3 separate regions of the Homo sapiens genome follow, and all the other regions are reported to be linked to region 3. Evidence: microRNA targets listed by miRTarBase, many of them from high-throughput screens and not tested one by one. Region 3 holds a microRNA gene; each other region holds the end of a gene's coding sequence.
Evidence for each region. Region 3 holds the annotated microRNA hsa-miR-223-5p (CGUGUAUUUGACAAGCUGAGUU, at 1,554-1,575, shown strand). A microRNA usually pairs through its seed, bases 2 to 8, with sites in the 3' UTR of a target mRNA and lowers its output. Matches are read on the target gene's strand: a 7mer-m8 pairs with bases 2 to 8, a 7mer-A1 pairs with bases 2 to 7 and ends in A, and an 8mer does both.

Region 1 (5,064 bases), not on the chromosome of region 3:
TTCTAGGTAACATGTAATTTGCTAGATCATTTCAGATTTCCAGAATGCATAGGAATTGGAGGAAAGGGATATTAAGGCGGTTTAAGTGTTGCATGTGACTTTTTACTTATTTAGTTTTTTAAATATTTGGAGTATTAAAGTAGATAGGTGTTCATGTTTACCTAAAAATTATTACTAAAATGTCTTTCTTACTAATGAGAATATTTCGTTTTTATTTCCTCAGTTTTTTGGACCATATACAAACAACACTCTTTTTGAAACTGATGAACGCTACCGACATTTAGGATTCTCTGTTGATGACCTTGGATGCTGTAAAGTGATTCGTCATAGTCTCTGGGGTACCCATGTAGTTGTAGGGAGTATCTTCACTAATGCAACACCAGACAGCCATATTATGAAGAAATTAAGTGGAAATTAGCAGAAATATCCATTCATTTGCTGTACTATTTGTATGTAATATTTGGGTTGATCTATAAACACTGTCAGACTAAAGTTTTTAAAATATATTTATTTCTAAGTATTTATTTCAGCATTTATGAATTTACAACATTGGCAAGTGATTTGGGATTTTAAAATTGCAAATGTTCATTTATTCATATCATTGAATACACGTTGAACACATCCACATTGTATAGGATGTGGTAATTAGCTTGTAACCAGGGTATGATCTGCTATTGTTATTTCTCCTCTTTATTGGAAAAAGGCCTCAGTTTTAATTATTTTCTTCCCAAAATAAATCACACATTTGGTTACAATAATGTGTGTTTTCATTACAGTATTTTTTAAATACCATTATTGATTCTTAAGTTTCTATATTAATCTTTTTAAAATTCTTTTTAATGCAATTGAGAATTTTGGATTCATTGTAGACTTTTTCAAATTTTCTTTTATCTTTATTGTCTATTAAGTGTTGGGGTACCAGTCTGAGTATTACTTTGAAATAATTTATGTTCAGGAAAAGAAGAAGAAGGATAATACATCTTTAAACGCATATGAGTCTTGTCCTTATCCCTACTAAAAAGGTAATTCTCTCTTAACTCCTGAGTTGAGACAGACAAATAGAACTATGCCTTAACTGACAAATTTATTTTTCAATTTTAGCAATAGGTGGAAACTGCAGTACTTTACAGAGGTGCCTCATTTGAGACAGAGCTTGTTTTTACAGCATCATAAACTTCATCTTTCATTTTTGAAGCTTTTGCAAATAGGAATAGGCAGATCTAAGGAGTAAATGTAACTTCCACAAAATGAATTGAAATAGATTTTTTTCTGTTTTTTCTTCTTTGCATGAAATGCCTGTTTTGAAAAGGACTACATGGAGATAACTTTTTAATCACACCTTGTTTTAAAACCCCTAGCTTAGTTAACATGTCATTTGATAAGAGGTGTTGCTTACGATCTAGAACTAGAAAGTTTTCATTTATTTTGAAATGATGAAGTGTAGTGATTGCCACAGCATTTAGAAGAACATTTATTGAAGTGTATATATATATATATATATGCACATCATATGTGCTCAATAAATTTTTATGTGTGTAACCAGCACCCAGATCAAAACACAGAATACTCAAACACACTCATCCTGCTCCCTTCTAGGTACTACATGCTCCCCAGCCCTTGCCCTTTCCGTGAGTAACCACTGTCCAGGTTTCCTTGTACAGTATAGGTTGGTTTTGCCTGTTTTGACGCTTTATATATACGTAGACACACATACACATGTATATATACACACACACATTTTACATATATATATGAAACTGTATAATGTGTTCGCTTCAGTGTCTGGCTGCTTTTACTCAACATTGTGAAATTAATTCCTGTTATCGTATATGGTATCAAATTTGTTTGCCTAGTTTTTGCCTTCTCATTGCTTCTGAATTGGGGCAGCTTTGCCCCTCAAGGGAAATTTAGCAATGTCTGGAGACATTTTTTATTTTCATAATTTGGAGGGACATGGGGGAGTTGTGCTACAGAACTTAGTAGGTAGAGGACAGGGTTAGTGCTGAACGTCCCACAGTACAGAGGACAGCGTTACACAATACAGAATTTGGTCAAGTACCTTGCACCACTCTCATTATTTCTAATGTGTATTTTGCTTATTCAGCCATTTCCTACCTTGCACCATTCTTTAAGGCAAGTTCCCTTGAAATTTCAACATTTGCTTTAACAATTAGGAAGTGTCACTTACTGATCGAAAATGATACTTATTCCCTATAGGTGACTAAGTCTGTGCATTCTGTTGTACTGAGATAGGGTACATGGTGACGAGACTCTTTATCAACTTGCTTTTTAACAGGATTTCCAGAAACAAATATGATCAGCAGTAACTGTTAATTAAAAACTTTTTTTTCTGAAGTATTATGGCAAGATTCAGGTTTTAGAAATATAACTCAAGGAACTCTTACTGAATGATAATAATATAAAGTGGTTGACTATTATGTACCACAGAAAAAAACACCTCAGGTAACTGTTCACTTGATCAGGACCTTGTGGACAAGAAAGGATTTGTAAAATTATATATCTTAAACATAAATTTGCTACCTTTTAAAAAAATAAGACTGAGCCATTGAAATTACTATTAGATCTGTCACTGAATAAAAGTTTATTTGTTAAAGTTATGTTTTCACAAGAACTTAGGAATTTTTGTTCTTGGATGCTGGTTACATAGATGAAAATTTATCAAGCACATAGAAATTAAATGCTGAAAGAGATCTTTCAGATCATGTCATCCACATTCCTCATTTTATGGTAGACAAAATGGGAAACAGGAGCATTTGCATCAGGTCACACAGCTAGTGTTAAGACCCAGCACTGGGACTTGGCCAAGAGTCCATTAGTTATATATATTTCTTTTCTATATTCACTTCATGGTCATAATCAAGAAGTCTATTAAGTGTCTGATTAAAAATATCAAAGAGTTGCAGAATTTAAAGTGAAAGAACTTTTGGGTTAACTGATAATGCTGCCACTTCATAAACTTAGGAATTCATTACATTGAACGCTATGTGCTTTTAGTTTCTTTGAAAATTTACTGAAACATGTATCTAAAAATTCAATTATAGAATGCTAGACTTCAAACAATAGTTCTCTAGCTTCAAGTTTAAAACCTTCATGTCTTTCTTGGGCTTCTGTTACTTGTAATATCAACCTAGTCCTTACATTTGAACAAAACTCTCTTTTTAGTTCCAACTCTATATTCTCCTTGTGACTGTTGTCACAAGGAGGGTTTATCCACTTCTGCACTATTGACGTCTTGAACCAGTCTTTGTTGTGTGGGCTCTCCTAGACATTGTAGGAAGTTTAGCAGCATTCCCTAGTTTCTGCTTATTAGATACCAACAGCAAGCCATGGTTATGACAAAAATGTCTTCCGTTATTGCTATATTTCTCCTATGGGACAAAATACTTATCAGAAGTCAAATTTAACCAGGTGTTCTGAATTTTATCTGACAACTTTATCACTGGGGTTGAGAACCACTGATTCAAAGTCCTCAACTTTAACTGTACATTTAGATCCCCTGAGGGCATTTAGTACTGATGAGTTGGCCTCACACCCACATATTGATATCATTAGTCTGATGAGGTTTGGACCTAAGTACTTTTTAAGGGTTTCCCAGGTGTTTCAGTGTGCATTCAGGGTTAGAACCTCTGGTCGGTCCTAAAACTCAGTAATAGTTGGTGGATTAGAGGCATCTAAGGAAATAAGAGTAAGATTTGCTAATCTATTTAATGTATTAAGGAGCTATAGAAAAGAATGAAGGCTCTAATATTTTGCATTAAGAGAGACCTAATCAGGCCTAAATCAATTCAAGGATTTGAGTCACACTTCCTCTATGAAACCTTTCCTGGCTCTTCATCCCTCACTGGTCTTTTCCTTAATTTATATAGTACTTGGTCTCCACCACACGATTTTGTACACAGTTCCTTTATATTTTTTTGTCTTAAATCTTGCCTCCCATACTTGGAAAGTAAGGACCCAATTTCCTACTAACTTAAACACACCATTGAATATGCAGTAATAACTTTCCTGTTATCCTCTCATTCCTAACCAGGATATTTTAAAGTTTTTCATAGGGTTTTCATTGCCCTCTTAGAATACATGTAAACTGTAACTTAATTATGTAGACTTAAGGCTTTGAGCATTTTTTGTTTTTTGAGACTTTGAGCATTTGTCTTCCATTCATTACTGGAAATTATAATCAGTTAAAACCATGTCACTACTATAAAAAGCACATAAGTGGTCACTTGATTGATCACAGAGGTGACACTGCAGTGCAGTGAGAAAAGAAGGATCTTTTCAGTATATATTGCTGGGTCAATTGGATATTCATATAGAAAAATGTATTTTTACTTTTACATGACACATACATCAAAATTCTAAATTGATTCCAAGTCTAAATTTGAAAGGTTAAAGCTTCTAGGGGGAAAAAAAATCTTTGTGCTTTGGAGTAGACAAAGATTTGTTTTTAAGAGAATACAACATAATCATATAAAGGGAAAAATGATTAATTGGATCATGTTAAAAGTAAGAACCCTTGGCCAGGCGCCATGGCTCACACCTGTAATGCCAGCACTTTGGGAGGCCGAGGCTGGCGGATCACCTGAGGTTGGGAATTCAAGACCAGCCTGACCAACATGGAGAAACCCCGTCTCTACTAAAAATAGAAAAAATTAGCCGGGCGTGGTGGTGCTGTAATCCCAGCTACCCAGGAGACAGGAGAATCGCTTGAACCTGGGAGGCGGAGGTTGCGGTGAGCTGAGATCATGCCATTGCACTCCAGCCTGGGCAATGATAGCGAAACTGTCTCAAAAAACAAAAACAAAAAACAACTAAGAACTCTTAATTCATCAAAAGACATCATGAAGGAGAAGGCAGCTAGCAGAGTTAAAGATAAATACATACTCAACAATCTGGCAATATACATATCCAATAAACAGCTTGTATTCAAAATATATAAAGACTCCTAAAATCAGTAAACAAATAACCACCAGAAAAATAAACATTTACAAAGAAAGATACTCAAATGGTCGGTAAACACGGTAAGGTGCCATACTTCATTAATCA
Region 2 (5,064 bases), not on the chromosome of region 3:
GTAATAAATATGTTTTTATTTTTATGTTAAAGTATAACAAAGCATTCAGGTAGATACATTTTCACCAAGTGACAACATCTTATGTAACTAGCACCCAAGTCAAACAACAAAACAGTTCCAGTACTCTAGAAGGCTCCCTTGAGCCCCCTCTGGTCACTATCTGTTAAGGGGGTGGGATTGTAGACAGTTTCTTTCTTTTCCTTTTTTTTTTTTTTTTTTTTTGGGAGTTCCTGTATTTTCCAAATTATTAACAATTATATAATGATAAAGGAAAATGATTTTATATAGGGGTGTGTGTGTGTATGTGTTTGTACTTAAGTAAAAGTAGTTTTGTTATTTCTCGGCTGGATTTTTCTTATGTCTATTAAGTATAATCACTGTCTATTGAGTCAGTAACTAATTTTTAAAGGAGTCTTGAAATGCTATCTCCCCCTAACTGCTCACTCACAGTTAAATATTCTGTTCATGACTTGAAAGCAGACATCAGTTTAAAGGGTATGAAAAGCAAGACAGGTTCTCACTGGGAATTTCTAAGGCTTAATATACCTTTGACTTATCAAGTTGACTGAGACAGTTTAATGCTATTCATGGTATGGGACCTTGTTGCTATAAATACGAATATTTATCACTTGATTCCATATTTGATCGCCCCTCCATTACTCTCTCTTTGCCTTTTGATGTTTGCTGCGTATTGCCCAAACTTTCTCTTCTTCACTCCTCTAGATCGTGAACCTTATAGAAGAAACTGGACACTTTCATATCACAAACACAACATTTGATTTTGATCTTTGCTCGCTGGACAAAACCACAGTCCGTAAACTACAGAGTTACCTGGAAACATCTGGAACATCCTGAGGATATAACAACTGGATGCATCAAGAACTATTGTGTTTTTTTTTTTTGGTTTTTTTTTTTTTTGGTTGTGATTTTTTGTTCTTGTTGTTTATATGAAAACACTCAAAATGATGCAACCAAAAGGGAAAAAATAAAAATCAAACAACCTTCAGCTTTATTTTTCTTTAAAGCCAGTCATCATCTCTTGATAAAGGAGAGGTTAAAGCAAACCAGCCTCAGCGGACCACTCTTCTCTCCAAGGAAATCCCCGGGAAGAGTTAGCCTGGATAGCCTTGAAAACAAACAAATCAAACACAACACAAGAAAACTCAAAGAATGTGTATGGTATCATGTATCTCTCTGTGGTGGTTCATTCCACAGGACGAATGCATATTCAACACACTGCCTTATTACATAACTGATCTATTTATTATCGCATACAGATATTCTAAGTCGTTGAGGGAATGACACCATCAGACATTATAAGTACTTGGTCCCGTGGATGCTCTTTCAATGCAGCACCCTTGCCATCCCAAGCCCAGTGACCTTACTCGTATACCGTGCCACTTTCCACCAACTTTTTCCAAGTCCTTTAACTCGTTGCAGTCTGTATTTTCCACCTTTTGTTTTTCCAGTTCCAGGACACAGATTATCAACTGGGGGGACCAAATAGCCACCTTGATTTTCTTCTTTGTGGTCTTTTTCCTGAAAGTTGGGGCCCAGTCCTTGGCTGTATCCATGTAATGATCTTGGACCATGGTAGAAAATGCACCAAATAGGATCATATGAATTGCTGTCTAGCCTTAGTCAATAAACTTGTAGGACTTTTAAACAAAAGTGTACCTGTAAATGTCCTGAATCCAGCATTGTTGAGCTGTCATCAACATTCTTGTGTCTGTTTTACTGTTACAATATTAGGTGAATATGGAAGTAAAGGCATTCCACAGGATCATCATTTAAAAAAAAAGAATTCTGGTCCTGTTTTCTAAAAAAAAAAACTGTTGTAGAAATTCTTAATTTGGATCTATTTATTAGTCAGAGTTTCAGCTTTCTTCAGCTGCCAGTGTGTTACTCATCTTTATCCTAAAAATCTGGAATCAGAGATTTTTGTTTGTTCACATATGATTCTCTTAGACACTTTTATATTTGAAAAAATTAAAATCTTTCTTTGGGGAAAAATTCTTGGTTATTCTGCCATAACAGATTATGTATTAACTTGTAGATTCAGTGGTTCAATACCTGTTTAGTTGCTTGCTAATATTTCCAGAAGGATTTCTTGTATTGGTGAAAGACGGTTGGGGATGGGGGGATTTTTTTGTTCTTGTTGTACCCTTGTTTTGAAACTAGAAATCTGTCCTGTGGCATGCAAAAGAAAGCAAATTATTTTTAAAAGAAAAAAACCAAAGTACTTTTGGTGTCATTATTCCATCTTCTCCATAAGTGGAGAAATGAAAAGTAAGAACAGCTCATCTTCAAAGTTTTTACTAGAAATTCAGCCGAAAAGAAGAGAAATGAAGAAATACTTCTGGATCCAAAGGTTCGTCACTGGATCAGCCTTAAGAAAGTCTCTATGTGTGCTAATAGACCAGTATCTCCCTTGTTTGTTCCCATGCCAGATGCTGTCTTTTCATACAGAGATTAACTAGTGTCTGTACAGAAAATGGTCTTTCCAGACCCATTCTTTTGGGCAGTTATATAAATGCAGATTGATAATGGAGTTATTTCTGCATTTTAAAAAGGGGATTTTTTACACTGTTTCTTTCTATCCAAAGAAACTATTTTTCCTTTAAAAAATTATAATACAGCCATGCTCCTTGTAAATTATTTCTCTGAAGCGTCCTCCCAGAGGACAAGTGTACTTTCTCAATAATGTTATGATTCTTAATGACGATTGGCATGAACCGTACTTGAAGCATTTGTTGTATTGTCCACTTCTTGATGTGCAGAGAAACTTTGAGTCATTTTGGACATTAGGTGATTGATGAATTGTGTGGTTTCAGTTGCGTTTTGTTTTTAACTTTATAGCTGGAAGGGGAGGGTAATGTTTATATGGAAATGTTGCAAATTTTTAAAATATTTTAAAATTTCTAACTGCTAACACATATTCTGATCAAGCCAGAAGTTTATGTGATTTAATATATCTGTGTAGTTTAACTAGAAACGTATATATGTAGTTTGGGCCATTTTTATTTCTGTAACTAAATTGTGGGGCAAAAAATATGATTTGCCAATGTAAAAATTTTTTCCTTTAAGTTACTAACCAAGAAGCTAGGTAAGATAAGAAATGACCAAACAAAAATAATGATAAGAAGGACAGCTATTATATGATAAACTTTAGACTTGAAAATTAGGTAATAAAGTTAATTTCTTCAGAATATCCTAAAATGTAAGTTTGTAAATTGATAAAGTTCAGAAAAACTTATCCATCTTCTACTCATCAAGATAGCAAAGTAAGTTTTTCACAAAATTAAGACTGAGAGTTACGTTATTTTTTTTGAAGTGGTAATCTTGCTCTCATCTAATTTTTAAATACAGAAATAAAAAGATCCCTTTGAATTAATTTCAAGTAGTTTTAATACCTCTCTTAAAGTAACCCCTTCAGTTCTGTCACATTTATATACACCCAACTTTGAAGCCTATTAAGAATATCTTTGACATGTGAGTACCCTAACAGTGGCTCTGGTTTCTTAAGCACAAAGGGAAAATGGCAGGGTTTAATTTCTTTGGTGTACATATATAAATAGATGTTTCAAATAAAATTAATTGGGTAAATGTGAATATGGTTTGAACCAGCCAGAGTATGATAAACTTTTAAAAAATTTTTCCTCAGTGATCAGCCAGGGGAAAAAATATATGTACAGAGCTCCTGCCCCTCTGCCCCCTTATAACTTAGCTTTTGCCTCTGGTTTTGCAGCAGGATGTGTGTTGGTGGGTTTGGGGTTCCTTCTGTCTTCGGATGTAACAGTCATGTTAGCAACAATATTTTGCAGTTACTTCACCATCCTCAGCATAATCTGCCTCTCTCTCAATCTTAATACAGACAAATAGGTATGTCTATAAATGCGTTCATATAGTGTCAAGGTAGGGAAGACTATAAAAACTTCAGATCAGGAAAAAAATATCTCTTAAGAGAGTGTCTTAAACATTTTAAATTGCTAGGCAATTTAAATCTCTCTAATCTGAATATTCACCTTTTGGTGGAAAGAGCCAGTAATATTGGTTTTCTTCCACTAAAAAGTTTCTTCAAAATTTTTTTTTTTTTTTTTTTTTTTTTTTTTTTGCCGATATCTTTTACAGGCCCACCTAATCTTTAAAAAAAAGAGAAGAAACAATTTTAGGCCTGTATAACATCCTATTTACTACTTCAAGCTCCACAAATGTAGTTAATATATTTGTTTAAGAGAGACTTTACTCTTAAATGTTTTAACTTTGCCTACTTAATGGAGTTGGATGTCCAGTGTTGGAAACAGTCAGTGTCTGTTTGGTGGCTCGTGTTTATTTTTGTCACTGTAGAAGTGATCTGCTCTGGAGTAATTTGCTGTATGCTTATTACTTTCCACCTTTAGCGTTTTGTGTACTAATGCTATGTACTGCTCCTATATTTATATATACATATATATATATATATACACATATATATTATCAGAGTAATCTTGCTTTGGACTGTTGCTCTAAAACTATGAATATGATGTAGAGACTACTACAGCTGCAGTGAATGTTAAGGAGTCAATTCCCATGGTTTAGTTTAGTCTCGGGCTGGAAGTCTACATCTTTTGACCTCTTTTGTTTTATATGATGCTTTTTATTATGTAGGCACTGCCATCCCTGAATATTCCTTGTAAAGATGCAGTGAAGAAGTCAATTTAAAAGGAAGACAAAGCCACCGCTGTCTGTAAACTGTAAATGTGTATTTTGGCACTTGTACTCCAGTATTCTGAAAATAGAGTTATGATGGAAATGCTGACAGATCCTTAATGGTGGCCAGAGCTACCATGCAGTGCAAAAATAAATTAAGTGAAAATGTATTATTGAGATTAACAGTGCAAGGCCAATACATTTTATAAATCTGTCAGTATCTTTTTAATGGACTGTGTATGTGTAGTTATGTTGAAAGATACATTGTGTATGTGTACATGCTTTTGTGTGAATTCAAGGCACACTGTAAGATGTATTTCCCTTCTCTAAAATCCATGTTGAAATGTAAGTACAGATTGATAGAAATAGGTGTTT
Region 3 (5,075 bases):
CTGCTGCTTTTGCTGCTGGGTGGATTAGGCTGAATTGGGTAGGTAGAAAAGGAAGTGAGGGAGTGAAAGAGCTTTAGTTTTGAGATGACTGCCAGAACTTAAATTGAAGGAGTATGTTACCTTCTTAACATTCAATTAAAAGAATAGAGCAAGAAAAGACACTGATTGTTTTCTTGCTGAAAGACAAGGCTGAATCCCTCTGTCTTACCTGGGCTGGGACAGGGCTTTCCGGCCTCATGGGGGCAGTTTACCATTTCTGGTAACCTTGTGATGTTTGCCACTTTTCATGACAATATTTAATGTAGACCAGCTACCTGCTCACAGATCAACTGCCACAGCTGGTAAGGGCAGTAATTTGACACCAGCAACCTGGGATTTTTAGCAACAGGATCTGATTGTTGCCAAGGGAATTCTCCCAGAAGTTTCAGACCTGACCCTGCTCCTGGCAGCTTCCTTATTGCCCTGGTGGCTTGTGGGTTCAGTGATCCCAAATGTTGCATTACAAAGCTATTGCCTGTTTTTGCCCTCTTTGTTGATGTGTCTTCCCTTTCCCAGAGGGATATACAGAGAAGGGAGGCAAAATAACCAATGAGGAAAGCTGTATAAGGCATACTGCTGAACTGTAAAAAATTTATTGTATAAACTTTACAAGTCTCCTCCCCAACAGGAGCCTTTGTTATCTCATTTATAACCTAAGTGAGTGAGACTAGATGATCTTTAAGGGCACTTTAATAGCTGCCATTCTTGAGTCCCTATGGGACAAGAGGATCATGTTAGGCAAGGCTGAGACCACAAGAAATCAATGTCACACCTGTCCAGATCCTGCTAAATCAATTGCCAATAGCTCTTTCTTTCATTTTGGTCACACAACCACTACTTTTTGAGCATTTGTTATGTATTGAATACTGAACCAAAGGCTTTACATGCATTATCTCCTGTCATTCTCACAATAACCTTATGAGGTAGGTATTATACTTACATACATTTTGTGGGTGTAGAAAACTTGAGCTCAGAGAGGTGAAATGATGTATCCAAGGTTGCCTAACTAGCTAATGGAAGAACTAGGATTTAAGCTCATGTTTAACCTCAAAGCCTATGTGCATAACCACAACACTGAAAACACAGCTTGGGAGAATTGAGAAGAGGGAGCAAGGATGCTGACTCTAGGGTCTGGTACTTTCCTCAAGTCAGGGAGGCAGGATGATGACCAAATTTTCCCCTCTCTGCTGCATAGAGGAACCCACTGAAGCTTGGGACCCCTAGAAATGCCATAGCTACAGGACTCAGGCCTGATGAGCTTCCAGCTGAGCACTGGGTGTCACTCGGGCTTTACCTGCTTATCTTCAGGATCTCTCTTCTGGTTAGGAACCCTATGCCTATTTTGCTCACTTCCCTATTCTGGTGCTTTGGTTGGTCCTTTGAGCAAGATCCCCGGGGCTAAGGGTGTGACTTCATCATTCCTTTCTCTCTCTTTCCCTCTAGGGTCACATCTCCCAGGAAGATCTCACTTCCCCACAGAAGCTCTTGGCCTGGCCTCCTGCAGTGCCACGCTCCGTGTATTTGACAAGCTGAGTTGGACACTCCATGTGGTAGAGTGTCAGTTTGTCAAATACCCCAAGTGCGGCACATGCTTACCAGCTCTAGGCCAGGGCAGATGGGATATGACGAATGGACTGCCAGCTGGATACAAGGATGCTCACCAAGCACCAAGTTCTCACAAGTTATTTTATGTGACTTTGCAGGAACTGAGGCATTATATCTGAGGACACCAGGGGAAAAGTGTGGCATCTCAGGGAAATACAGCCCTGGGCTGTGTCTACACACACCATGAGAGTGCTGATGGGGGCGCAATAGTCTTGAAAATGTATAAAGTGTCCAGGAATGGAAGTGCTCTTTGATTCATTATTATTTTCTTCCTTCATATTCCCCTCCCAGAGTCTCCTATCTAGGACATCAGCATTCTCACACAAGCCTAATGGCTTATCTGAGTAAGCAGGGCTTAGAAATTCACTTTCTTGATACTCAGTCTTGCCTTCTAAACACTCCTTGATCTTGCCTACCTCTCCCCTTTTCCACATGTCTTTTCCTGTAGGAACACTTTCTCCATTTATTCCTGCCTATCCAATTCTTCCCTATATTTCCTGGACCAGCTAAAGTCCAGTGTTTCCAGAGACTTTTGAAAGTCAACTTACACTTTTTCCTTCTTCATTCACAAAGCTCTTCTTCCCTGGGCCCTGGTATGTATGCCTTTCTCTCCTACTGTCTAATAGCACCTCGTAAATTGTCAATGAACTTTTCTAAGGGGTATTCTTGAATTCCCAACTAGATTGTGAGCTTCTGGAAGACAAGGCTATGTCTTTGATTGTTGTCTCCCCTACCACAGCCCAGTACTTTAGTTACAGAAAATAATAAATATTTACTGATTGATTGACTTTCCTCTTGTCCACTAGCTTTAGGTTTGGGGGCCAAATTCTACCCTGGATTTTGAAAAATTCAAACTGTGAACACCACAATGTTATAGAGCATATGAGGTAGTAGCCAGCATGAAGGATGTTTTCTTCCTGAGAAACAGTGTCAAGGGCTGGAGGAAGAGGGCAAAATAGCAGACTCAGAGGGCAAATAAATTTTGGTATTACTTGGTCACACAAGGTTATACAGGTGTTTTCTTGTAGGATTTTTCAGAGCCTTTAATAGTCTAATGTTGCATTGAGAATCTCAAAGAGGAAACCATAGAATGAGGCATTTGCCATACCTATCTGATCATGAATTTTCTTTTCCCCCACAGCCTTCTCCTGTGTCAATGTCCAATGAAGCACGATTTGGGAAACTGTCCTAGAGAAACTTTATACCTTCCCGCTCTTCTGGAGATCTTTTCCTCTTTTCATTCATCTACTTTCCCCAACCAGCCATCTGCCTAAGAAAGGTCACATGTTATCATCTCATTTTTGTTTAGCCTCTGCAGCTGTGGACTATCTTTATTACATAGGAATTCTTTACTAGCTTGTCCTGTATTTAAAAATATTCTAAGTTTTGAGGCAAAGAAGATCCAGATGCTGCAATAAATATATGCACTGAGGAGTTCACAGGCCTGACTTTTGGTCTCCTTTCTACCACTAACTGTGTTTTTGTTCCTCTCTGAGCTTCATTTTCTCATCTCCAATACGGAAGTATTAGAATCAGTGATCTCTAGGCTCTTTAAGATTAATGACTTTGAGATATCCCTGGGAGTCCTTAGCTCTTATGGAGCAGCGTCCCTGGATGTGTGGCTCCTTTTACCAGTGAAAATGCAACCAGGATTCTCTTCCCAACACCTAAAACTCACTTTTTCTATGGGTAGTAGGGAAAGATAATGGGTATTTTCAAAGGCTGTAGGGTCTGGACGCAGAGTTGTTTCATGAAGGAAGTTGGGGTTTCCACTGGGTGGAGGCCCTATTTCAGAGGCTTGTAAGCACGATGGGGAAGAAAGAGTTGTTCCTTTCGCCAACTAGGAGAAGCTAGCGTCTGGAATGAGGAAAATGTTGAGGTTTTTACCCTGGATTTGGCATGTTGGGTGGCGGTGAAGTGGAGGACTCCTTTTTGTTACTTTCGTGTACTATTTTGACTTCTGTAATCATTGCAAAAGGGGAGCAGCTCCTTGTGAAACATGAGCTGACCTAGGGGCTGCATGGGAACCAGAAATAGCAACATGGCAGCTTCCTTGAAGAGTGCAGAAGTTGATTTGACATTAATTACATCGAGAAAATAAAACTGTGTCAACCTGGGTCAGAACAGGTCCTCACAGCGGAGCCTGATTTAAAGGTGTAGGAACTTATGTACACATACAAACTCTCTCTCTCTCTCTCTGTCGTGCGCACACACACACACACACACACACACACACTCCTAGCCCTATTCCTCCTTGAAGAGAAAGGCTTTCTTGCTCTTATCCCCACCTCACATTGTAAGAAGGGGCCAGGAGCTAAAGAAGATAACATATGAAAAATGCAACTACCCCCAGGATTTTAAGATTCAAAGAAGTGGAAATCCTTGGGAGTGGTGCATCCATACTTGGGAAAGAAGGAAATCCCTTCATCTCTGCATTCATAGTCCCCTGAGACAGAAAGACTTTTTCTTTCTTAGGCTTCCAGTTGATGTGGGAAGAATCATCCAGGTGGACCTGGCAGGATGACAGGTTGGGTAATGGAAGCCAGGGGAGTACTGTTTAATCAAGTATTCACTGTTCTCCAGCTGGGCTTACCAGTGGAGTGAAGTAGGAGTGGCATGTGTGGGAAGGGGAAAGACCAAAAAAGCAAAAGTGACATCCATATTCTCGGGCCCCAGCCATCTTAACTAGTCTCACTTTAATTACTTTTAGTAGGTCCTACCATACTGTGAGAGAAGACCAACACAACTGAAGTTGCTGTTATGATTAGATATTTATTGAGCACCAGGAGAGAGTCAGAACATTAGACTTATAGTGGAGGAGCAGAACTGAACCCTGGCCTGTGAAATAACAATTTCAATTAAAAGCTGTCTGGCCCTGAAGAAAGAGAAATGATCCTGGATATAGCTGGTCCTCTGAGCTGGCAGAGCTGAGCCTCCCTCGGGTCTTCTGGTGGCAAGATGCCAAAGTTGAATAGTGTCTGTAGGCATGATGACCAAGTCCTAGTGCTATGGGCATCTTCCCTCTGGTATTTAGAGAGGAGTACCAGAAGCCCCCGGCAGAGATACTAGAAGGGCCCAGAGCCAAATCCAGCAGCTGGCTTACTTGAGATGCATCTGGCAAATTCCAGGGCAAAGCCAGTGACTCCCAGCGGCTCCAGTGTTGGTAGGCGGACACTTTGGGCTATCCAGGAAGAGAGGTAGCAGGGAAGAAGGCCATGCAGAAGGCAAGGACTGACTAGGCAATTATGTCAGCAGATCCTGGCCTAATGGGGCATTTTTAACAGACACTTTTGCCCTCAGTGGCCAGAAACTCATAATCCAGAGGAACTGTGTCCAGCAGGCGGGCGTAGTTGCCATTGATCTGGGCGATGATCTGGTACTCCTGTCCTATGCAGGGCTCATCAGAGTAGTTGTTGCCCAGATTCTGGGAA

Region 1: miRTarBase lists MMADHC as a target of hsa-miR-223-5p. Seed matches in the 3' UTR shown: 7mer-m8 at 605-611.
Region 2: miRTarBase lists MLLT3 as a target of hsa-miR-223-5p. Seed matches in the 3' UTR shown: 7mer-A1 at 4,461-4,467.

Annotation. Positions count from the first base shown.
Region 1 is chr2:149,565,328-149,570,391 of GRCh38, reverse strand. MMADHC (metabolism of cobalamin associated D) reads left to right here. Exons shown (of 8, transcript NM_015702.3): 8 at 224-755. The coding sequence ends at 418. Among named protein-coding and RNA genes, the nearest start is that of MMADHC-DT, 19 kb to the left of the region's middle.
Region 2 is chr9:20,342,234-20,347,297 of GRCh38, reverse strand. It overlaps MLLT3 (MLLT3 super elongation complex subunit), which reads left to right. Exons shown (of 11, transcript NM_004529.4): 11 at 724-5,064. The coding sequence ends at 855. It overlaps LOC124902129 (a long non-coding RNA gene), which reads right to left and starts at 179. Exons shown (of 4, transcript XR_007061434.1): 1 at 1-179.
Region 3 is chrX:66,017,342-66,022,416 of GRCh38, forward strand. MIR223 (microRNA 223) reads left to right here and starts at 1,529; the gene lies at 1,529-1,638. VSIG4 (V-set and immunoglobulin domain containing 4) reads right to left here. Exons shown (of 8, transcript NM_007268.3): 8 at 4,397-5,075. The coding sequence ends at 4,922. MIR223HG (MIR223 host gene) reads left to right here. Exons shown (of 3, transcript NR_170299.1): 3 at 1,483-3,085.